Homo sapiens: one gene and its partners. The protein of the gene in region 1 interacts with the protein of each later gene in a biochemical or structural test. Each region holds a gene or a part of one and is shown in the gene's direction. Other genes may lie near its edges.

The links.
Region 2: the proteins of RADIL (region 1) and NRXN3 interact in a test that uses a peptide from one of them, tested with the Homo sapiens proteins (one large-scale study listed by IntAct).
Region 3: the proteins of RADIL (region 1) and MARCHF3 interact in a test that uses a peptide from one of them, tested with the Homo sapiens proteins (one large-scale study listed by IntAct).
Region 4: the proteins of RADIL (region 1) and TYRP1 interact in a test that uses a peptide from one of them, tested with the Homo sapiens proteins (one large-scale study listed by IntAct).
Region 5: the proteins of RADIL (region 1) and KIF17 interact in a test that uses a peptide from one of them, tested with the Homo sapiens proteins (one large-scale study listed by IntAct).
Region 6: the proteins of RADIL (region 1) and SCN5A interact in a test that uses a peptide from one of them, tested with the Homo sapiens proteins (one large-scale study listed by IntAct).
Region 7: the proteins of RADIL (region 1) and SLC45A4 interact in a test that uses a peptide from one of them, tested with the Homo sapiens proteins (one large-scale study listed by IntAct).

The regions. Positions count from the first base shown.
Region 1 is NC_000007.14:4,877,217-4,880,716, reverse strand, and holds part of RADIL (ras-associating and dilute domain-containing protein), read left to right. Parts: intron 1-2,513; 5' UTR 2,514-2,577; coding exon 2,578-3,112; intron 3,113-3,500. UniProt on the Homo sapiens protein: Downstream effector of Rap required for cell adhesion and migration of neural crest precursors during development.
Region 2 is NC_000014.9:78,173,373-78,176,872, forward strand, and holds part of NRXN3 (neurexin 3), read left to right. Parts: intron 1-3,500. UniProt on the Homo sapiens protein: Neuronal cell surface protein that may be involved in cell recognition and cell adhesion. May mediate intracellular signaling. Functions as part of a trans-synaptic complex by binding to cerebellins and postsynaptic GRID1.
Region 3 is NC_000005.10:126,867,214-126,870,386, reverse strand, and holds the end of MARCHF3 (E3 ubiquitin-protein ligase MARCHF3), read left to right. Parts: 3' UTR 1-2,673; downstream 2,674-3,173. UniProt on the Homo sapiens protein: E3 ubiquitin-protein ligase which may be involved in endosomal trafficking. E3 ubiquitin ligases accept ubiquitin from an E2 ubiquitin-conjugating enzyme in the form of a thioester and then directly transfer the ubiquitin to targeted substrates.
Region 4 is NC_000009.12:12,696,385-12,699,884, forward strand, and holds part of TYRP1 (5,6-dihydroxyindole-2-carboxylic acid oxidase precursor), read left to right. Parts: intron 1-2,066; coding exon 2,067-2,271; intron 2,272-3,500. UniProt on the Homo sapiens protein: Plays a role in melanin biosynthesis. Catalyzes the oxidation of 5,6-dihydroxyindole-2-carboxylic acid (DHICA) into indole-5,6-quinone-2-carboxylic acid in the presence of bound Cu(2+) ions, but not in the presence of Zn(2+).
Region 5 is NC_000001.11:20,687,008-20,690,507, reverse strand, and holds part of KIF17 (kinesin-like protein KIF17), read left to right. Parts: intron 1-172; coding exon 173-320; intron 321-1,684; exon of another isoform or gene 1,685-1,981; intron 1,982-2,563; coding exon 2,564-3,120; intron 3,121-3,500. UniProt on the Homo sapiens protein: Dendrite-specific motor protein which, in association with the Apba1-containing complex (LIN-10-LIN-2-LIN-7 complex), transports vesicles containing N-methyl-D-aspartate (NMDA) receptor subunit NR2B along microtubules.
Region 6 is NC_000003.12:38,639,688-38,643,187, reverse strand, and holds part of SCN5A (sodium channel protein type 5 subunit alpha), read left to right. Parts: intron 1-3,500. UniProt on the Homo sapiens protein: Pore-forming subunit of Nav1.5, a voltage-gated sodium (Nav) channel that directly mediates the depolarizing phase of action potentials in excitable membranes.
Region 7 is NC_000008.11:141,252,789-141,256,288, reverse strand, and holds part of SLC45A4 (solute carrier family 45 member 4), read left to right. Parts: intron 1-1,517; exon of another isoform or gene 1,518-1,659; 5' UTR 1,660-2,059; coding exon 2,060-2,300; intron 2,301-3,500. UniProt on the Homo sapiens protein: Proton-associated sucrose transporter. May be able to transport also glucose and fructose.

The DNA.
Region 1 (3,500 bases):
CTGCCTGGTGGCAGAGGCTGTACCATCCACCACCTGCACTTTGCCTTTGCACCCTGGGGAACCCGTTGGAAATGAGCACTATGAAAAGGTGGTGGCCGACCCTCTGCCAGTGTGTGCTGCCTGGAGGCTTCTAAGCCTGGGGCATCTGGAGAGGTGCTTTGGAGCAGGGTTGTGCAGCTCTCATGGATGGTTAATAAGTGCCGGCTGGAGAGGCTCTTTGAGGGGTTTTGTTCTGTGATTCCAAGTACTCACTTTGAAAACTGACCACAGGAGACTGAGGTCAGACTAGAGGGCGATTGGAAGCCGCTGGTGTGGTGTGCACAGGCCAGGCCGCACGTTTGTGATGTGAGCACTGTCTGAAAATGCTTTTGTTGTAAATGAAACCGAGGCCTTTGATGAGTCCGTGGGGGAAGCTGCGGCCGGCTCTGAGCTTCTTAGGATTTGACAAGGCCACTCGTTGCACCTTCCTCAGAGGAAGAGAAACAAAGGCTTTGCTCCTTTACTCCTTTATGGCCTGGCTCGATGGAACCTCAAGGCTCCATCTGCTTATGACCTGTACTGGGAACTCCGTGACCTGTTACAGCAAATTCACCTCTTCAGAAAGCCAGGCACAGCGAAAGCCTTTGCCGTGGTGAAGTGTCCGCAGTGGGCTATAGGAACAGGAGAAGGGCCAGCCACCCACCCCGCAGGGCAGACGTCCGCGTTGGGAACCCAGTCTCTGGTGTGCGAAGCTGTCGGAAGTATTTCTGAAGAGTTCAAGGTCCTCGGAGAAAGCACAGCTGCTGGCTGACCTGGGCTGGTTCTGGAGGAAGCGAGTGGTGGTCTGATTTCAGGACTCACCCATGACAGCTCTGGCGGGCAGTGAGAGGCTCCAGAGAAGATGACCCACGCCCCGGTGATATTAGAAAGAGGCCAGTTCGCAGTGTCAGCTTTGGAGGCTGGGGCGGTTCCACTGTTTAGTTTCCTAAGGGACAGTGTGGCTCCTTTTCTTTGGAGGGGTTCCCTGGTTGCTTTCTGTGGCCCTAGGCAGCCACCGTCCTTTCCAGAAGCCTTTTGCAGCGCCCGCAGCGTGACGAGTGAGTCAAGCCTGGACAGTGACAGTTGGCTGCTGCGGTGTTTAGTACTGACCCCGGTCGCAGTGGCAGGCGACCCGTGCTGTGTTCACTGGGACCTGGACCACTCTTTCCAGAGCTTTCCAGAAAATAGGCTTTCCTCCTGGCTCACTCGTCTGCCACCTTTGTCTTTGGTGAGAACATGAGCACGGAAGTGGGGTACAGTAATGGGGAGATGTGTGCGCAGTTTTCCAGTATTTTCCTGCCTTGCAGTCCAGCCTCACCTTTTCCAAATCGGAGACCTGCCTTCCTTTTTCTCTGCCCTCCTGCCCCCACAGAGGTTCTGGAGGGAGACTGAGAAACCATCTGGAACTCCTGGCCCTGGGCACGCTACGGACATTAGAAGTGTGATTGTATGACACGCCAACGCGTCCCAGGCTGTTTTCCCGTTTCCCCAGGAGACTGCATCTCTGTGGCCTGGAGCGCCGGGCACCCGCGGCCTGTGGTGGGCGGGACGCCTGCATTCCGGCCATGCCTGCACCGGCTCGAGAGGGGCCCTTTGTGCCCGCCGTGCTTGCGAGGCCACTCAGTGCTGCCATCCCAGGGAGTATCTCCTTCAAGCCAGGACGGGTCTCTTGCCCTGAGGGGTAGATTCTGGGGGTTTGTGTCTGGAATGTCTGATGGTCTATTCTGCCAACGTGGCTGCGATTCGCCTGTTTTCCTGGTTGCACTGTGTTTGTGACCCATTTCCCACGTCGCAGCCTGTGGGGTAGGAGACACGAGGTTTACGGAGAGGCGAAGCTTTGCCCTTGGGCTGCCCGCTGCTCTTCTGTGGCTGTGATGGTGCTGGGGCCGGCTCCGGGTGGGGCGCTCCTTGATGCTCACTGCACACGGGCGCTGCGCCCAGCACTTTCCAGAAATCCAAGCCCTGCAGCGGAGCGTGTCTTACTTAGGCGACCTCATTGTGTTTCCCAGTAATGGCTTTCCTTGAAGGGCGCTCCAGCCCGTTTAGTCCTCTCGGTCTCTGGTGGCCCTGCAGGCTCCAGCCACATCCTCTGCTCAGGTGCTCTGGTGTCAGGTCTGCGGGGCCAGGATGCCCACGGCCTGTTATGTCCATTAGATTTTGAGATGGGGTCTTGCTCTGCTGCCCGGGCTGGAGGGCCGTGGCACTATCATAGCTCACTGCAATCTTGAACTCCTGGGCTCAAGCCATCCTCCAGCCTCAGCCTTCAGAGCAGTGGGTACAGTGCACACCACCATGCCTGGCTAATTTTTAAATTTTTTGTAGAGCCGGGGCCTTACTATGTTTCCCAGGCTGGTCTGGAACTCCCGGGCTCAAGCCGTCCTCCCACCTTGGCCTTCTAAAGCGCTGGGATGACGGGCAGGAGTCACCGCCTGTGGCCTCATTTGCTCTTGGTGGTCACGATGGTTGGCGCTAACCTCTCTCACTTTTTCACCCAGGTCACGGCCTCCCCACATCCTTTGGCTGAAGCCCACAGTCCTCATCCATGAAGCCTCACCCACCATGTTTTATGGGACGCACTTCATCATGTCCCCGCCCACCAAGAGCAAACTGAAGCGGCAGAGCCAGCTGTTGTCCAGCATGCTGTCCCGGACGCTGAGCTACAAGTACCGGGACCTGGACTCCACCTTCTCCAGCCTGGGCGCCAGCGATGACCCCGCCGAGCTCTCCACCCAGCTGTCGGCCCCTGGTGTCCTGAAGGTGTTTGGGGACAGTGTCTGCACAGGAACCCACTACAAGAGCGTCCTGGCCACCGGCACCTCCAGCGCCCGTGAGCTGGTGAAGGAGGCGCTGGAGCGGTACGCCCTGGACCCCAGGCAGGCCGGCCAGTACGTGCTGTGTGACGTGGTGGGCCAAGCCGGCGATGCTGGGCAGCGGTGGCAGGCCCGGTGCTTTCGGGTGTTTGGGGACAGTGAGAAGCCCCTCTTGATCCAGGAATTATGGAAACCCCGAGAAGGTTTATCCCGGAGGTTTGAGCTGAGGAAGAGGTCGGACGTGGAGGAGCTGGCAGCCAAGGAGGTGGACACCATCACGGCAGGTGAGGGGGGCCACAGGTTCAGGAAGAGCCGTGGGTCTGAGCGCTGAGAAGGCCAGCCGAGGTAGGCGGAGAAGGAGTGGTGCAGGGGACATGCGTGGGGCGGGCTCGCTCTGCAGGAGGCAGTCGGAGCCCGTGTCCTGGATGTTTGAAGCCTTCCTCTTTTGTTCTCTGAGACAGGGTCTTGCTCTGTCACCCAGGCTGGAGTGCAGTGGTGCAACCACAGCTCACTGCAGCCTCCTGGGCTCAAGCGATCCTCCCACCTCAGCCTCCTGAGTAGCTAGGACTATAGGTGCACCACCACACCCAGCTAATTTTTTACTTTTTGTAGAGACAGGAGTCTCGCTGTGATACCCAGGATAGTCTTGACCTCCTGCCCTCAAGCGATCCT
Region 2 (3,500 bases), on another chromosome or scaffold:
ACTGAGATACAGAAATCCATCGGCACCAGCTTTGGGGGCATGGAGAGGCAGCGGAGAGATGGGGGACGGGTTGTCAGTCTTGGATGAACAGTGGAGCGGTCGGGTTGGCGTCTGGGCATTGTGTGTGCTTGTGTCTCTGTGTGTGTGTGAAATTTTTTCATCCCACCACCAATCTCCCCCTCCATCCTCCCCCAATTCTGCCATGATCTTGCCTTCTATTTCCACACACTGCTCCCCCCACCCTAGGCGCACCCCCCCTTCCTCCAGCCCTTTCCATCTTCATGAAAAAAATTCTGATTTTGATGGCTCTGCGGCTCTTTTTTCCCTTTTTCCTTGCTTTTTTTTTTTTTTTGCAACACAACAGTCGTGCGATGGCCTTTCCTACATGCCACACGGATGCAGCCTTCTGATAGGAGGGCAAAGTCGGCACATCCACACACACACTGGCATACGCTCTTGCACACACAGTCTCTGTCACATACACAGGCGCCAAGGGCTTCATTTTGCTTGGTTTCATTCCCCTTAACCTCTTTCCCCACTCTACCTCCACCATGGCTCCTTCCCCCCATCTTTGCATGGGGACTGCGGTCACGTTAGAGCCTCTTTTCCTCTCCGCAACCGCGGTCTTCTTTCTTCTCGCCATTATTCTTTCCCTAAAGCTGTCGTGTGTCGCAGTTCATGGGATTAGCATGTTGGAGAGTCTTTGTGGGAGGGGACCTCACAAGCAGGGGATTGGAATGGGGGTAGATAACATTAATAATTTTTTTTGACCAAATAAGCACCCAGTGATAATGATCCAATTTAACCATCCATGAAATATATGTTTGCGGTACATTGGAGGAAGGTTATGTGGGGGAGGCAGAGTCTGACGGGGTTACCTCCGGGGAGATTTGATGCCTGGACAGTAGAGCCACAGCCCCCTCCCCCATACACATGTGTACACTCTCTCACACACACCAACACGCACAGCTCTGATCAGTGGGCTGTGTCGAACCAGAGGGCACTGCAGAATATCCCAGAGAGTTGTGATGGTTAGTTGGGAGGATGGAACAATGTCTTTGTCCGACCCAGTTCTCCTCTCTACAGATGATTCTGGGTCTTGAAATTCTTGGTGGCCTTTGTGTTGGTTTACGGGTGGGGACTGGAAGGGTGTTTGTGTTTTGTCAAGCACCAGCGTGCCTCCAATTGGACAACATAGGATTGTCAACACTGTGCGTGTGGTTCAAGCAGGAGGCTGCCTGCCTCTTTGTGTGGTGTGGCTGTGTTTGTTGGATATGTGCGTATCCAGCCTCATACGGTGGCTCTGGACAGGTGTGGTAGTGACGGGGAAGGAAGGCAAGAAGCAGGGATGGTCAGTGGGGAAGAGTCCTCAAGGTAGTTGAGAGGAGGGTAGAGGGGAAGAAACTGCTCCTGCCTCCAGCAGGAAGCCTCAAATGAGATCCCCACGTCCACCAAGCGAACCCGTGGGTGGGTGGCTCATGGATGACTGGTGGGCGGATACAGATTGAAGGGGGAGAAGGGGATGAGGTGGGTGAAATTGAGGGTTTTCCCTGCTGCCTTGACAGAGCCTGGGGCTGAGCTCGGGAGGGTGGTCTTGCTCCCCTGGCATCAGCCACCTCTTGGGCGGCTCGGCCTTGTTGGAGGCTGCAGCCTGAAGGAGCTGAAATCACCCTCGGCCGTGAGAGCAGCCCAGCCCCTGTTTTCTCCTGGGCTCTGGCTGCCTTAACTACCGGACGCCATTTTCCCATCTTCAGCTGAAGGTGTGTCTCTCTTTATTAGTAATTATAAGTGAAATTGGAAAACATTTTGCCTAAAAGAAAAAAATCACAAAATCCTCAGAGCAAAATGCTGATGGTCTTACCTTTCTAGCATCCCTCTCCCTTCTTGGGGCTGACCCTGAGGAGTTAGGGAGACAGGGTTACGTCATTGCCAGAGAAAGGGGATAAATGGGGAGTAGGATGCCTTGGGGGTAAATTATTGTGCCCAATGCAGAGAAGAGATTGTTCTTGGTATCCCCCGGCCGTGTTCTCCTTACATGACCCCTCAGGTGTGGATAGGAGACTTGCAAAAGAAGAAGCATTCCTTCTAAAACCTCACTGCCTAGAAATGTGCTGGCCCGTGGTCGGCTGTGGTCTGGGACCTGCTGTGGTCCGGTTCCTGCTGTGGTCCGGTTCCTGCTGTGGTCCGGGACCTGCTGGGGGAAGAACTGTTGCGCTGCAGCTCTGAGCCTTGAGGGCCAGCTCTGTTGCTCTGAGGATGAAGCAAGTGCGGTGCTGTGGCTGGGCCAGCCACAGGTGGCCATGCTGGGCTCGGGGCAGGTTGGCCATGCTGAGCTCGGGGCAGGGACTATGGATGGGGCCCACTCCCAGCCCTTTCCTGCAGGTTGTTCCTCAAATTATACTCCTCAGAGAGACCTTTCCTGACCAGCTTTCTAAAATAGTCCCCTTACCCCAACCTCCTGGCTGCTTTCCAGCCCATGACACTGTCTTTAATTTTAATCGGTGAATCATTATTTAATATTATATTATACGATGATATATTGAAACATTTAAGATGGATCTCGTCTCTTTACCCCTCTAGAATGCAAGCTCTGAGAGGTCAAGGACTTTGTGTTCATTGTGGTGTTCCTAGTGCGTAGGACATTTCCTGACACGTAGTAGGTGCTCAACAAATGTTTGTCGATTGGAGGAAAGAACCACATGGGTTTAGTGTTGGAGTTTTCTTCTCTAGCACTTGTGGCCTGTCTTCTGGGAAGGGTGGACTTTGCCTCTGGTTGTCTTAGCCCTGCCTGAATGTCTAGATCTGCTGGAGGAATTGCAACATGCTCAACTTCAGTAGTTTAGTAGAAAGGGCTTCTCTATCCCTGGCTCAGATGACTCTGCCTCCTTTGAGATCCCTCTAATATTAGTAATCACCATTCTCATCATCATCATAGTAGTGGTAGTAATAGTCGTGATATAGCTATCATTTCTGCAGTAGTTACTATTTACAAAGTTCTCTTCCAAGTTTTTTTTTTTTTTTTTTTAACACTCGGTATCTCATTTAATTCTCCAAACAACTCAATGCAGTATACTATTATTACCTGAGGAGACTGAGACTTAAAGTTACCTAATAAAATGACAGATCGAGGATTTGAATTCAGATCTGTCTCATGCCAGAGCCCAAGCATGGGACCCTTATGTTATAGTGTTAGAGGAAAAAGGGAGATGAATCATCTGTCATCTTATTCAGTGCCCTCAAGTACAAATGACAAGATGGAGGCCCAGAGAGACTACATGGCTTTTCCAAAGTTATGCACCACGTTTGATGCAGAGACAAAACTAGAATCAAGGTTTCCTGGCTGCCAGGGTAGGGCTCTTTCTACTCCATCATGCTGCCTGGTGGGCTGTGGGCCCTTTTCCAAGGGTATTGCAGCTGCTGCTGTGGGGGCTGCCTGGGGTGCCTTCTTAGTTCTCTTTCTTCAGAGGGGAGTGAGGTCTTGGTGGGGCAGGTGGGTGGTA
Region 3 (3,173 bases), on another chromosome or scaffold:
GATACTGTATGGAATTTTCTGAACACCTCTTTAACGTATGAGGAAGGTTGTCCTGCTACGGATGCAATTCAATTCTTCCTTTTTTATTACTATTTCAAACACACACACATATATATATATATTAAACTTAGATGATAATCAAAATCAAAAAGTCAACGTAAAAACTGGTTTCTTGGTTTGGTTGGGTCTTATTTGAGTTAGTTTGTTTCTCAGTTTCTCGTATGGATTCTTTGGGGTACTTTGGTAGCCTGAGTGGTCTTTTTCATCTCTTTCGCGTCCATTACTCAAGGAGACAGCATAACAGATGCAGAACAAGTCATATTTGAAGAATGTTTTGTACTAAACTTCATTTAATTATTCAGTTTTTAAAGGGAAAAAGGGCGTGAGCTCACACAGTGAGCTGTTTATTTAAATATCATTAAGGAGAAAAAAAAATATGGTGAGAAGCTCGCTCCTTTCAACTTGTTTGGTACTGACAGCTGATAGAAGCTATTTTCTAATAATAAACATCCAGTGTGTGAAAGACAAAACCCACTGATTGCAATACTCTTTTTTTAATGATAAAACCTGTGAAGTTTCCCAAAGCAGGTTTTAAAAGGAAAAAAAGGAAAAGCAAAAAGGTTGCTGTTCTCACTCCCATCTCATTTAGTGCATGTCTTAATTCGGGATTCGTAATGAATTGGAGGATCATTAGACATTTCTAGGAACCCTAGACCTGTTTTGCATGTCAATTAGCATTCCCATTGCTCTATTGAATTTCTAGCTTGACAGGTAGATGTGGCAAAAAAAAAAAAAAAAAAAAAAGCCTGTCCTAGCAGCCCTGCACTTATTCTAAGACCCCTTTGTCTGATTCTTTAAAAAGGAGCCCCACACAGTGCCTTCCCCCAACCATGAGCCAATTCTGTCACAGTCCGAAATAGACTTTTTCTAAGGGTTTCGTGTCCCTCTTTTATCCGTCGCAGTGTAAAGGGTCTGATCCGCAGCCTGCATTGTGCGCGCACCGAGGCAGGAGCGGATGTCTTCTGAGGAGAGCGCTGGCTGGGGTTGACTCTCAGGCTCCCGGCTGTCCGCCCGCCCACACGCAGCGAGGAGGGGCGGAGCCCTGCTTCCGGAATGCTTAAAATATGGAATTCTAGAACATGACCCACATTCTGAGTATCACTCCAGCATCTGCCTTGTGTTCCAAGTGGGAAAACGAGAAGTGCAAAGGAACAGGCAGCGAGGAGGGTAGCGATTTTTGTCTGCAAATTGATGGAGCTGATGCAGGTGTCCCCTTTGTAGGCGAGCCCTCCATTCACTGGCTGCTCCCAGCGCTGCCTGGGGAGGGAAACAGCTGTACTGCTCTCCGCTGCAAAACTCAGATGTGCTTTATGGCTTGTGACAATAGATTTCCTCCCCACCACGCTTCACTGGGACACTTCAATTCCAGTAATATATGTCTCAGCCCTTCTGTTTACTGCGCCCTGCTCACCCCCCTGGGCTGTCATTAGCTGCACCACCATCAACCGTTTCTTAATTGACCTTTTTAAAATGCTGGACATCACCGGCTGCACGCAGCTGCCACACATTAAATTTCCAGAGCAAAGAGTCCAACTTGGTAGCTGGTGAATTGCAGCCCTGTAATATACTTAATAAATGACGTCCACCCAGCCTTAGTCCCTGAGCTGTCAGGTGAACCCGTGACACGTCTCAACTGAATGGCACAACATTCATGAGAGGACCATACCCCTTCTCCCTGTTTCTTGCATGAATTAAGGAAGCAGCGGATTTCCAGGATGATTTCCTGTCAAGGTTGGCTGCAGAGAATTCCTGCCATCTTGGTTCATGAGATGAGATATGACATCATCAAAGGCAGCCAGGTCCCAGGCCGTTCAATGGGGATCCTGCATTAGGAAGGGTTTGCACATTAAAACTGTGCCTGTGCCACACCTCTTTCCTTCGTGTTTGCATCCCTGCCCTGTGAAGTAAAACAGAGTCCAAGATGCAAGGAGTAGATTGTGTGTGGGGTGGTGAAAGGACACCCCTGGCAGCCAGGCAGAGCATCAGTGCCTCCCTTCCCAGGTCACCAGCTTGGGACCTCCTTGTGAGAGGCTCTGATCTCCATCAGCATCAGGGCCCATAGGGGATTCTGAACTCTTGGAGGATATTTCATCCCCTCCAAGCCTTGCCCCATGGAAAGGGCTACACCTCCTGCAGGAAGGGGTGCCTTTTGTTAACAGGTATTAATGGGTACAGAGGCACCATGCAGCCTACCAGCACCCTTGCTAGCCTAGTCCTCTTCCTGTGCTTCTTTTTGAAAGATCAAGAATGAAGAGGAAGAGATGAGGAGTGGGGGTCCTTTACCTAAAGGACCCTCGTGGTTCATTGCTTCTCTTTAACTGACTTTTTAAAAAAACTCCCTCTTCCACACTCCTTGCTGTGATTCTGTCCTAATCATTTTTCTTGAGAATGTCATGTAGAGATAAATGTGTGTCACAGTGAAGCCAGAAGGTGAATTAACAACTAAGACAAATCCAGCATGCTCTTGCCTGCCCTGCATATGTGCTCATTTGGGGAAGGACGGAGGACACAGAGCATCGACACAAATTCTACAGCTCCTCAGAGAACACAGCAGAGACTCAGATGAGCTGTAAAATCCATTAAGGAAAAATAAATGGCATGATTTGGAAGTTACTTTGATTTGTCTTTCATTGTCCTAGTCTCCCCTGCCCCTAGTGCCTGGGCCCTGCCGTGGATTGTCACTTTCAGTGGGGCTGTAGCCATAGGCATTTCATTTTCAGTGAAAATAATTCATCTGCGGCATGGAGGAGCCAAAGGAGAAAATGGAGGTGAAATCGCAGCCCAAGTGACCCCACAGTTGGGCAAGCAGCCAGCTTCCGGTTCCACTTCCTCCTAGATCCTTATTGTTCCCATTGGGACACTGACCCTGGCTGGGCTCTGGGTCTGCGCCTGCACCGTGCATCTTTCTCCCATATTGGAATCCGCTCAGCCTTGCCTGACACTCCACACAGCTTATGGAGCTGTCCACACTAGGAAATGACCCATGGCCCAAAGAACCTGAGTAGGAAAGACAGCTAGAAAATGAAATCAGGAAATGCTTCCTTTCCACTTCAATCCAGAGTGTTCCTAGAAGCTGCCTGAAGATCTGCCACACAACTTGTAGTCCCTAGTGC
Region 4 (3,500 bases), on another chromosome or scaffold:
CTTACAGAAGAAACCTATTAAAATATCACATCACTATATAAGAGGACAGATATTTTAATTTGCTTGGCTATAGTAATCACTTTACTATGTATATTTATATCAAAGCACCATGTTGTACACCTAAAATATGTAAAATTTGAAAAAAAGTTGAAAAATATCAAAATAATTATATCAGTCAGGCAATATTTTTAGTGAAAAGACATTGGCTTTTTATTTGGCACAAAGTGAACCTCAACTCAAGCAGTTATTTCATGCTTATTTTCTAAGCAGATAAGCTTCAAACATATTAAAGTATCTAGTTACGTAGATTCTTTACTCTTATTTCTTTTACCAACTGCTCTGTTCCTTGAGAAAAATATGGAAATTTTAAAATAAAAGTTTAAGTTGTTAGATCTCAACTAGGAAATCCACAAAGTAAACCTGTTTTCTATGTGAAATAACAGCAATGAATCTCCCCCTTCAAGTTAAGATATAAAAATTAAGCTAAAAATATCTGAAGAAGGGAAAGGCGTTTAGATTCATTTATTAATTTGCAGAATGCTGTGCCAGCATTATTCCGAGAAAAAATAAATGGTTAGAAGAGAGAGAATTAATGCACTAACATACAGGATAAAATATTCTTTTGAAAGTACACTATCCATTTGCAGTTTGAGAGTGATTAAATGAATTCATCTGATACTCTGAACGTCATATTTTATAGCTCTGATTGCAAGTAAGACATTTAGTAGATTATAGATAAATCTGTCATTTGTAATTGACTGCAGATCTTCATGCCTTCAAGTCATTTTCTCATGGGCACACCAAAATGAAAGGGCAGGTGGAAAGTATCTAAAAGCTTCAATTTTGCCTGTGTAAACTTCAACCTCTATGACTTACATTTTAAAGACCCAACAGCACAAGGGATGCAACAAATTAGAATTTAAATGTAATTCGTGGTTGAAATGCCACATGAATATGCTCTGGCTCCCAAATGTCAGTTGCTGAACCACAAACCGATTCTTAATGATCCCTTGGAAGCTGTCACTAATTTTTGTGAACCACAATGATGGCTTCTAAAGGAGGACTACAAACCCCTGGAGACCAATAACTGGGGATAACTTGGAAAGCTTTTGGCTCTCTAAAACACCCAAGGATAAGAAAATGCTTCCTAGGAAGGGATTTAAAGTGAAAAAGTAGAAATATACTGAGTGCTTGAGAGATAAGATAAAACAATTGCAATCCCTACATTTAAATCCCATACCATAAATAGAACTTCTCAAGGCACCAAAGAAATGAGAAATAACAAGGAAATGTATGTTTTAAAGAACCGAATGAAATAAGCATGTGATCTTGAGGCCAGCATTTTTAAAAATGTGAGATCAGCTTTGAATGGAAACTAGGTCTCTGATCTAAAAAACAATGGGCAGAAAGATTTACTCTGCTTCTGTTTAGCATTTTTATCAGTATAAATTTAGGCAGAAGCCTGAGTCTTAAAAGTTTAGATTCTAAGGCAGGGTTCCCTAAATAAAACACCTTCCGTGCTCAGTGTGAAAGAGTCCATTGGCCTGTTGCCAAACCAGAATCTAAATGCCTAGTCATTCAAATTAAATTTAAAAACAGAAGCAAAACAAAAATTAGCACTCCACAAAACATATTTTAAGGCTGGATCTGGCTCCAGACTAAGAGTTAATGATGCTTGAATTAAAGATAGGAAAATGGAAGAAGGTGGAAATGCCAAGAAGTGGATGTTGTTATTGATAACTTTTTTGTATAACCAATATAAATGTAATTATCTGCCTAAAAAAGAAAAAGAAGACCCTTTATCCCTTTAAATCATTTTCAGAAATGTCTGCATAATGAGTTGAGTTTCATTCCCTCTAATGCCTAAATGACACCTTGTAATAAATTACCAGCTTTGTTAAATAAGGTTTTAACTCCTCTGGGCCCCTCAGACACCGTTGATATACTAACCAGTACCTTATTGTCTGAAGAGAGCTAATAGAAATAGACTGTCAGAGAGTAGACCAAACAGAAATGAATAATTGTAAACAGAAGCAGAGAGTATTAATGTGGTTTCTGTGATCTAGGAAATGTTGCAAGAGCCTTCTTTCTCCCTTCCTTACTGGAATTTTGCAACGGGGAAAAATGTCTGTGATATCTGCACGGATGACTTGATGGGATCCAGAAGCAACTTTGATTCCACTCTAATAAGCCCAAACTCTGTCTTTTCTCAATGGCGAGTGGTCTGTGACTCCTTGGAAGATTATGATACCCTGGGAACACTTTGTAACAGTAAGTTCCAAATGATAGCTTGGAGTCAGAATTTCTTTTTAGATAAAGAGATTAAATATGTTGCCTGAAAGGCCCTTCATTCTACTAGAGAATTCAGACTAAAATCTACTTTTATTATAGAGTAACAGTGTACCAGGCATTCATTAAACACCTAGAATGTTCAAGGTACTCTAGAAGTTGCTCCAGGGGAAACAGAAAGTGCCTACACATTTTTACACTGCCTTTCTTGAGTAGTTTGGTCAATATCTTGCTAACTTTCTTATTTTGGAAATGTCTAGTTGTATAAACTAATCCTCTTAGTTTTCTTAGCACTACTTAGAAGTCATGTGTCTTGTGTTGGAATTTCACAGAAAATGTTTCCTAAGAAAATGTGAAAAATAGGCAAAAAGTTGGAAATGCCCTGGGAAGAAAAAAAAGAAAAGAAGCAAACCAAATGTATGCTTGCAGTTATAAAGTTAGAAAACAAAAGCTGATATGGGGGATAGTTTTCAGAAAAGGAGTATATTGTACTGATGTCTGCCCCCTAGCTGCTTTCCAGCTCTTCCAAAGTGAACACAGTAAGAGTACGCCTAATCAGTTGTCCCAGCATCCTTTCTCCAGTGATCTGAATGCCACCACTGTCACAGGTCAAGTTTCTGCCACATGTAGATCTCTTCCTGAGCTTTCTGTTCTCCTCCTTGGATCATATTATTATTTGTGCCTGTGGTAGTAACACAAGGTTTAATTATTAGACACCCCCTACCTCATCTTATTTTTCTTCTTCAGGCATGTATGGCTCTTTTGATTGTTCTTCCATATAAAAATAAGAGTTATGTGAATTTGTTTTCTTATTATAATCACCACATACTTATTCTACATGTATTATTTTATGCATCAAGTATTATTTTATGAACTTAAATAAGAAATACTCTAAATAAATCAGCAGGAATTAGATACATATTTTCACCATTAGATTATTTAGCAATGTATAGGAATAAGAGAAGTGATAATATATGAAAATTTCCTCTGTAGAAGTTTAAAACTTAGAATAAATTTGTATTTGTTTGGTATGCTGAATGCATGATCCCACCTTGTGGCAGAGAACTGAAATTGAGGATCAGGATGTCTGCAGATGCCAAAATGTTTATACTCTTTGTGACCAGGCCATTGTATTTTGGCCTGAGAGTTTTCTAGACATTTCCCAATCACCCTGATGATTGGATACCAAAATAAAACACAGTTTAAATGAG
Region 5 (3,500 bases), on another chromosome or scaffold:
AGTTTGGAAAGGTCTTCACCGGCAAGTAATTATCACAGTGTTGTACCATTGGATTCTCTTGGCTTACTTATAGGTTCTGTATTGTTTGAATAACCAAAAAGGAATACTGAAAGCTGGGTTTCAAAATGATGATAAAATGCTGCCTGCCCTCTGGTCCCTCCCACCCCCCCAGGAGTATGAAGAGCGCCTGGCCCGGCTGAAAGCCGACTATAAGGCCGAGCAGGAGTCTCGGGCCAGGCTGGAGGAAGACATCACTGCCATGCGCAACTCATATGACGTCAGGCTGTCCACGCTGGAGGAGAACCTGCGGAAGGAGACAGGTGGGCACCCCTTGCCCCCCGAGGCTGTCTCCAGGGAAGGTGGCCTCCTTTCCGCCTCACTGCAGTAACTGCATCACAGAGCATTTTCTACACCCGAGGATCAGGTCTGTTTTATCCTCACAATGGTCCAGTAAGGTAGGTACCACAATTATGCTCGCTATATAGATGAGGAAACTGAGGCACAGAGAGGGTAGGTAACTTGCCCATGGTCACACAGCTGGTAAAGGAGAGCCAGGATTTGAACCCAAGCAGTCTGGCCCCAGAGCCAGTGTTCTCACCCACAGCACTGCACTGGGATGGCTTAGCCATGGACTGGGCCCCAGCTCAAGGCTGACTGTGAGCTGTGAAGTGCCACCCTTTCTTTAGAGGCCAGTCCCTGCCCCGAATTGCTGTGTTTTCCGGTCTCCTCTTACTTTTGAGCCTCTCTGTTAGCAAAGCAAACACATTCCATAATAAGGATTTAATCCTTAGCCACAGCTGTTTACCTATCTGGAGGTTTTTGTGTTCTTTTTTTTTAAAAAAAAATTTCTTTGTTTTGAGATGGAGTCTTGCTCCATCGCCCAGGCTGGAGTGCAGTGGCATGACCTTGGCTTACTGCAACCTCCCCATCCCGGATTTAAGCAATTCTCGTGCCTCAGTCTCCTGAGTAGCTGGGATTACAGGTGCACACTACCACACCCGGCTAATTTTTGTGTTTTCAGTAGAGACGGGATTTCGTCATGTTGGCCAGGCTGGTCTCGAACTCCTGGGCTCAAGCGATCCACCTGCCTTGGCCTCCCAAAGTGCTGGGCTTACAGGCATGAGCCACTGCACTCAGCCTTTAGTTTTTGTCTTCTTTTTGCCACCCTAGGATATTCTGCCATACCAGTGTCAGTCAAACACGCATGCTGCCTGGAGGTCCAGACTTCCTAGCACTCATGAATAGTGTAGAATCCAGGCCTGGAATGATGATGATACTGATCGCACCGTCGGTACCGCTTGTTGGCACATTACCACGTGCCGGGTACTGTGTGGGTGCTTTACCTGCACCTCCTCACTGAGCCTCTGGTCTCCCCAGTCCAGCGAGGTAGGACTCCCTGAATCCTCCCATAACTGTGTGGAAACCAAGGCTGAGAGAGATCCAGGCCATTTAGCTAGGGAGTGGGTGCCATATTTCAGCAAAGGGAAAAATCAAGACCCTCTTACAGGAGTCTGGGACATAACGATAAAGAAATGGGTGGGAGGTATGAGAGGCGCCGGGAGCCCCCTGAACTGGAGCACTAAGGGGCCCATGTGAATGCAGCCCTGTCTCCGCTGCAAGGGAGACGCGCTCCTGGAGGAGACCCAGGGGAAGGGGAGGGAGCAGATTCTAGCATTTTATGCCCTTTGGAGTGTTCCCTCCAGTCCAGATTGAATATGAGGCCTCCAGCAGATCTTCGTCTGGCTTCTGGAGCTCTGACATTCATCCACAGCATTCATTTAGCTCCCGTGGATCTAGCATATCCAGTGGACAAGAGCCCTGGGCTGGCCACTCCAGTGAGGGCTCCGAGGGCACCCGGGCATGAAATCTGCTGAGCTCTCAGCCTTGGAAGGCAACAAGGCCCCAGGAAGCCTGCCAGTGTGCGAAGAGTGGTCCCAAGGCTGGGTGTGACTTAAGAGCCCAGCACTCAGTGGCTGTGGAGGTCAGAAAATGGAGGAATCCCAGCGTTGGTCAGGGAAGGCTTCCTGGAAGAGGTGGAAGGTGGTAGGGTTTGGGTTCTGATAAAAGCAGAGATGGGAAGGCAGGCAGGCTGTAGCCAGCCTCTGGAGGGTCTGGGAGGCTCTGACTCTTAAGCTGGTCTTTTAGAAACAGTGGGCTTGGGCCAGGCGCGGTGGCTCATGCCTGTAATCCCAGCACTTTGGGAGGCCGAGTGGGGGCGGATCACGAGGTCAGGAGATCGAGACCATCCTGGCTAACATGGTGAAACCCTGTCTCTACTAAAAATACAAAAAAAATTAGCCAGGCATGGTGGCGGGTGCCTGTACTCCCAGCTACTCGGGAGGCCGAGGCAGGAGAATGGCATGAACCTGGGAGGCAGAGCTTTCAGTGAGCTGAGATCGCACCACTGCACTCCAGCCCGGGCGACAGAGCAAGACTCTGTCTCAAAAAAAAACAAAAAAAAAACAAACAAAAAAAACAACACACTGGGCTTGGAGCCACCTTCTAGGGAAGGGTCTCTCATTCTGACCCTTTAAAAACCTGAAGGAAGTTCTCCATTTTGCAGAGGCTGTCCTGCAGGTGGGAGTCCTCTACAAGGCTGAGGTCATGTCCAGGGCTGAGTTTGCCAGCAGCGCTGAGTACCCGCCTGCTTTTCAGTATGAGACAGTGGTGAAACCCAAGGTCTTCTCCACGACTGACACTCTGCCCAGTGACGATGTCTCCAAGACTCAGGTTTCCTCCAGGTTTGCGGAGCTGCCCAAGGTGGAACCCTCCAAATCTGAGATTTCTCTGGGCTCCAGTGAGTCATCCTCGCTCGAAGAAACCTCTGTGTCCGAGGCTTTCCCTGGGCCTGAGGAGCCCTCCAACGTGGAGGTCTCCATGCCCACTGAGGAGTCCAGGAGCAGATACTTCCTGGATGAGTGCCTCGGGCAGGAGGCCGCTGGGCACCTGCTGGGGGAACAGAACTACCTCCCGCAAGAGGAGCCGCAGGAGGTGCCCCTGCAGGGGTTACTAGGCCTGCAGGACCCGTTTGCCGAGGTGGAAGCCAAGCTGGCCAGACTCTCCTCCACCGTGGCCAGGACAGATGCACCCCAGGCAGACGTCCCCAAGGTCCCTGTGCAGGTAGCTGATGTCACGCATGGTGCCATGTGAACACTGAGCAGGCAGAGCTTGCCCAGGGCCCGGAGCTCACTGTGCACACACTGTTCACACACATGGCCTCCGACACTCAGGCCGTGGCTCCACTGTGTCTGCTGCGGCTCTGGCACTGGTGGCTGGCTCAGGGGCACTGGTGTCCAGGGGTTAGGGAAGGAGAAGCTCTGTCTCATGCTCTGTAATTCAATAAGAAAGTTGGGGTCGCGATGCAAGGTTATGCCAGGTGGGCTCCCGTTCTGCAGATGGAGGGACAGCTGTACAGGGCGTTTGCCCAGTTGCCATGGTTACAGTGAGTGTCCAGGCCTGACGGAGCCCTGGGCGACGCTCACTGGCTCGTGAGCTCTGTA
Region 6 (3,500 bases), on another chromosome or scaffold:
GGCTGAGGGCCAGAGACCACCCACCCCAGCCTCTGTTCCTCATGTTCTGCTCATAGACGTGGTCAGAAGAAGACACGGGAGCTCAGCCGGCCATTTGCAGCGACAGCCTCACCACTGTGCTGGGTCAGATGCAGCACAGACTGCCAGTTAAATAAAGCGACAGCTAGTTGCCAGCAAAACTGGAAACCCAAGGAAAGCCCCCACTTGCTTGCGGAGCCTAGGTGCCTATTAGATGTCTAATTGCTGAGCTTCTGTTTCAGGAAGTCCGAGGGAAGGAGAGATAACAACTCCCTAAGGATCCCTTGGGGTCTATGGTCCCCAGAGATAGCTGGACTTCAGGTCCCTTCCAGTCCTCGCCTTTTATGATCAAATTAAGGACACGTCCCCAGATGGGTGACTTGTATTCACAGTGCATTACACAGGGAGCTTAGATCACACTCGCCAACAAATAAAAGGTAAAAATCTCAAACATCGTGTTGAGTAAAAACAGCCTGACACAGAAGAGCCCATAAGGTAGAATTCCATATGCATGAAGTTCCAGAACAGGCAAAACCAACCTAGGTGATAGAAATCAGAGCAGTTGACTGAAAGGAATAGTGGGACTTTCTGGGGTGAGGGGATGTTTGCTGTCTTATTGGAGTGGCACTCACACAGGTGTATGCATTTGTCAAAACTCATCCAACTGTATACTTAAAGCATTTTCTTGTGTTTAAAGAGTACCTCAGTATGAAAGAATATTAAGAAAAAAGGGTTGCACATTTGGCTATAATACATCATGGACACTTTTGTGGCATAAATTTAGTGTATTGGTTGATTGGCTTATTTCCCTCTGGACACTAAGAGACCCTAGAGGTGGGCCTCCGAGGTTTCCATCTCTCTTGGTGCACACAGTAGGTGCCCCATAAATGCCTCAGTTGCCATGGCATCAGTGCACAGTTCCTCTGTGAAGCTTTTTTTCAGCTCAAGTATTGAGAAAAATGAGTTGGAAGGAATTGAGCTAGAAAGAGACTTAGAACGCTGATTGCTGTCTCGGGCACCTGTGTGCCATGACGGTGTTTCCTGGGCCACATGTGGGCACCTTTCTGGCCTGATTATGTATACCATGTGTGTTTACACAGAGATGGTCTGGGGTCCGGGGTGGAATGCCCCTGGGTGACTAAGCTGGCACTCCAACTCTGGGTCTCTGTGGTTTCAGGGTATTAGACCATCCAGGTCCCCACCCTGGAGACCCAGGGCCAGGGGCAGTGCTGCCTTGGCTGACAGCGAAGTGCCACTCAGCATATTCTAGATACCCTGTGGATGGACCTGGGCATGTGTAAAGGGGCTGACAAAGAAGACTCGGGCCTGGGGTAGGGGGGTGCCCTATGCACTTTGGAGGGGGTACCTGAATGACCTGGGCCTTTTGCAGTTCCCCTGGCCTGGCACCCAGACACTGATGAACAGTCGATGGGTTGAATAAGCTGCTGCCAAGCCCCCGGCCCCCATCCTTACTGTGGGGAAGGGCTATGAAGAAAAAAGCAGGGCCACCCACCTTTCAGTGAAGAGAGTGGCTACCCCCAGGCCAGTTTGTCCTTGGGAGGTGGGCAAAATTCAGGGCTCAGGCCGAAGAGCCCACTCTTCCTCAGCTCCCACCTCTGGAGGAGGACCCGGTCTCAGGCACCCCCATTTCATTTCATCCCTGCCTGGGGAATCACTTCAGCAGAGCAGCAGAGCTAAAGCGGGTGGGGTTTTCCTGTCAGCTGAATTAGCCTCGGCTTCAGCCTGGGTGTTGGAATAAATGAGATGTAAATGTATGTAAATGAGGGCATTCCCTGGCTTCAGGGTGGGTGTGTTCTCCTCCACCTCCAGGAGGGATGGGGATGATTCTTCAGGACTTAGCAAGATCGCTGGAGGCGGAGATTAAGAGTAGAGAATGACAGGCTCCTCAGACTCTCCCATCTCCCCCAGAACTGGGCTCCAGACTGGACAGGGTTAATGCCTATGCAGCCTCAAAGGAGCGGAGCCTGTGGGGAGCTGGTTAGCTGAGGCCCCGTGCAAGGACGGACCAATGTGCCTTTGATCTGGGAGCAAGGACCTGAAAGCACAGGCCACCAGCACCAGCTGGCACCCCCACTGAGCCTTTGTCCAAGCTGTTAGCCCGGGAGAGCCGAGACTGTGCAGACAATTGCCTGGGCGGGAGGGATGGTCTGAAACTTACTGTCGATCTCTCCCACTTACATCCCCCACCATCCCAACCTGTGGCTTGAGCCTCCACAACCACCCACAGCCACTGCCAGAAACCAGGATGGGCACTTTCTGGTCTGCGGGGGACAATGCTCTTTCAATCCTTCCCTGAGGCCCCCGCCCCCAGCCCCACCCCCAAAGCAGGTAGAAGTCTTCCCCACGCCCACCCTTGCCCGAGACAGAGTGTCGCTCTGTCGCCCAAGCTGGAGTGCAGTGCAGTGGTGCAATCTCCGCTCACTGCAACCTCTGCCTCCCGAGTTCAAGCAATTTTCCTGCCTCAGCCTCCTGGTAGCTGGGATTACAGGTGCCTGCCACCACGCCCAGCTAGCTTTTTGTATGTTTAGTAGAAATGGGGTTTCACCATGTTGGCCAGGCTGGTGTCGAACTCCTGACCTCAGGTGATCCACCTGCCCCGGCCTCCCAAAGTGCTGGGATTACAGGCATGAGCCACTGTGCCCGGCCTCAGGTAGAATTTTTTTAAGGGCTTAGGGCCTGGTGGCTGGAACTTGATGCCAGTGCCATCCAACAGAAATATAATATGAGTCACAAATGCAAGCCACATATGCAATTTTAAATTTTCTAACAGCCACATTTTTTAAACTAAAAAAACGTGAAATTAACTTGAACACATTTTATTTAATCCAGTATACTACTATCAAATATTATCTGTTTAACTTGTAATCAATATTAAAAGTTATTAACGAAATAGTCAACATTCCTTATTGTACTAAGCCTGCAAAATGGATGTGACTTTACAATAGCACAACTCAGTCCACAGTAGCCACATTCCAAGCACTTGGTAGCCACATGCAGTGAATGAGTGGCCACCCTGTTGTTGGACAGTGCTTGAGCTGGAGAGAAAAACTGCTGGGGAATCGCTTCTGCCAGGAAAACTGCTGACTCTTCGGGCATGGGCAGAAATCGGCTAGGTCTCCCTGGGAGCATCTGGGCTGCATAGAGGGAGAACCAGGCTCAGATGAGGCTGACAGGGCTGACTCTTAGCCTTGAAGTGGGGGTCACAGACACAGTCCAGGCAGATGGGCCATAGGCAAGCCATGAGCTTTTATCCCACTCTCTGCACGCAGAGGTAGGAGGCAATGTGGTGCAATGGGTAGGCTCACAGGCCTGGCTTCATACAGACAGGGGCTCACTTCATCTCTCCTACAGTCAGATTTCCCATCTGTAAAGCGAGGCTAATAACCCCCGTCTTCCTAGGATTGTTGCAAGGATGAAGTAAGGTGATCCACGAACTGCACTAAGTGCAGTGCAGGGCACAG
Region 7 (3,500 bases), on another chromosome or scaffold:
GGTGTGTTTTTAGGGGCTCTAACACTTCAGTTGAACCGAACCCCATGTCTGGAGACCTAACTCCAGAAGTCCTGAACTTGGGGTGTTCCACATCCCCGATCTTATCTTACCTGAGGAGAGATTGACCTCATTTCCTAAAACATTTCCAAGGTGGCATTTCCAGTTAGCTTATTGCTGCTTTATTGTATGTGTTTGCCCAGGTGGGGAATTTGTCACCAAGCTGGGTTTGTCACTGGAGGCAGGGTGGTGGAAAGCCGAGGGTTGGGGTGATAGGGTTCCGTAGACCCTGGGAAAGCTGCGTGTGGGTTGGGAGTCTCCGAACCCCTAGGTACTATAGTCAGAGTTTGGCACATGCGTACATTTTTTTCTGGAGAAAAGGTCTATAATTTCATTTTATTCCCAAGAGGTTTTATAACCTAAAGGCCAATACCACAGGAGTCCAGGTGCCTTTGGGTAGACTTCGAACTCCCCCCGGACAGAGAATCATGCTATGCTCATTCCACCCAGCCTCCTACTTTTCATTTTTCTTTTCTTTTTGTTTTTTTTGTTTGTTTGTTTTTGTTTTTGTTTTTTGAGACAGGGTCTCACTCTGTTGCCCAGGCTGGAGTGCAGTGGTGCGATCTCAGCTTACTGCAACTTCCACCTCCCGGGTTCAAGTGATTCTCCTGCCTCACCCTCCTGAGTAGCTGGTATTACAGGCGCCCGCCACCATGCCTGGCTAATTTTTGTATTTTTAGTAGAGATGGGCTTTCGCCATGTTGCCCAAGCAGGTCTTGAACTCCTAATCTCAGGTGATCCACCTGCTTCAGCCCCCCAATGTGCTGGGATTACAGACTTAAGCCACCGTGCCCAGCTGCTTTTTATTTTTAATTTCCACCTCTCCAGGCAGGGTCTACAGTTTCCCTTTTTGGCTGGGCACGGTGGCTCACACTTGTAAATCCTAGTGCTTTGGGAGGCCGAGGCAGGGTAGATCGCTTGAGCCCAGGAGTTGGATACCAGCCAGGTCAATGTAATGGGGACCCTAGAAAAATTAGCTGGGTGTAGTGGTGCATGCCTGTAGTCGCAGCTACTCGGGAGGATGAGGTGGGAGATCACTTGATTCCAGGAGTTTGAGGCTGCAGAGAGCCATGGTCGTGTGACCGCACTCCAGCCTGGGCAACGGAGCGAGACCTTGTCACTAACAAATTAAACTTTTTTAAACAAAAGTTTTCCCTTTTGATTCTCTTTTGCCTACCTCCCCCACTTTTCCCTTCACCTCCTTACTTCCCTTTCATGATATCTGCAGCCACAAAGGGTGTCGCCAGCTGCCTCCAGCCTGCTGGAATAGTTACGTGCTGTGGTACACAGGGTGGACGATATTGTTACTGGCCAAAGAGTGAATATTTCCAGCGTTTTTCTCTGTCTGTTCTTTGATCCTGCTTTCCTTGATTGCCCCACCTTTGTCCTTCCCCAGGATTCACTTTCGTATGAGAAAATGTTTTTCTAGAAAGTAGGTTTGGTTATTTGCACAGACGTACCCAGAGTGAGTGGCAGAGAGCTGTGTGATCTTGGGTCGGGCCCTCGGGGCACACGGCTTGCTCGGGGGTCGGGCGGCGGTCCACAGGGCCATCTGGTGGCCGTCCCCTGACTCTCTGGCCGGGTTGTTTTCCTCTTTTGCAGATCATCCAGTCACTCGATGGGGATTACCAGCGGACCACCTGTTTGTATCACCTTCCCACCTCTCTGTAGCAAGAAAAATCACTTCAGCACCTCTTCAGTAATAATGATGAAACTGGTATTAACTGAATGGCAATTATGGATTTTTAACTCTAATTCACAGTAAACCAGCAAGCCATATGTTTAAAATCCAACCAAAAATCGTTCTGTGTTGCTGCATGTCTCATACCGTTGTGAGAAGTTGTGAGATAGCCACTTGTGCAAAGAGGAATGTAAGTGTTACCTGCCCGAGGAACACAGCAGAAGCAGAAAGAGAAGACGTCTTAATTTATCATTACAGATATATGAAAGCATTATTTATATAGATAGAATATATAGATAAATACATATATTTTTGGTGGTAATGAAAATGGCTCCGCAGAATGCCGACCCGGAATCTATGCAAGTTCAAGAGTTATCCGTGCCCCTGCCGGACCCGCAGAAAGCCGGAGGCGCAGAGGCCGAGAACTGCGAGACCATCAGCGAGGGGTCCATAGACCGAATCCCCATGCGCCTGTGGGTGATGCACGGGGCGGTGATGTTTGGCAGGGAGTTCTGTTACGCCATGGAAACCGCTCTGGTCACACCAATACTGTTGCAGATTGGTAAGTCTCCTCCCCGTCTGTGCGCAGTGAACGCTGAGCGGAGTGCTAGCGGACTGGGCGTGGCTCTGATCCTCTGGAGGCAGAGGATGGTGCGTCCTGGAGAGCCCCGGGCACTGGAGTCTTTGTCTCCTCTCCCTTCAGCCTGCCCTGATGGTGGTTTTCGTCTCCTGTTTTCAGCCAGGTTTGGGGAGGAGTGATCTTCGGATGTTGACGTTGAATTACAGTTTTGGCAAAGTGGTAGCTCAGCATCTGGGGCAGAATTGGCACTGATAAGTACTGGCTCTCGGCCGGGGCTCACCTCTCCCGCTGTCCCTGCCAGGCCACAGTGAACAACGAGGCAAAGGGCAGGGTCGCCAGCACTGACAGTCACTGGCTGTGTCATGCAGGCGAATTCGGGAGCCCTTCTGTGCCACACTCTGATTCTTTGTGTGTAAAGTGATTGCATTCGCAAACCAACCCTAAGAGGGTCCCAGGTGTGCTTAGAACAGTGCCTGGCTGTGGGAGATACTGGAAGATGCTGTCATCTTATCATTGTTGCTGTTGACTTGAATCCAAGGTTATTGTGGACAGTAGATGGCTCAGAGACAGGCATTTCCAAAAGCATGGAAATTCACAGGCACGCACAGGTGGGCATGAAAACACGGAAAATCACAGACGCACAGGTGGGCATGAAAACACAGAAATTCACAGACACACGCAGGTGGGCATGAAAACACGGAAATTCACAGACACACAGGTGGGCATGAAAACACGGAAATTCACAGACACGCAGGTGGGCATGAAAACACGGAAATTCACAGACCCGCAGGTGGGCATGAAAACACGGAAATTCATAGACTTGCAGGTGGGCGTGAAAACACGGAAATTCACAGACACTCGCAGGTGGGCGTGAAAACACGGAAATTCACAGACACTCGCAGGTGGGCGTGAAAACACGGAAATTCACAGACACAGGTGGGTGTGAAAACACGGAAATTCACAGACGCACAGGTGGGTGTGAAAACACGGAAATTCGCGGACACGCACAGGTGGGCGTGAAAACACGGAAATTCACAGACACGCAGGTGGGCATGAAAACACGAAAATTCACAGACACACAGGTGGATATGAAAACAGAAATTCACAGACACGGGCAGGTGGGCATGAAAACACGGAAATTCACAGACACGCAGGTGGGCGTGAAAACACGGAAATTCACAG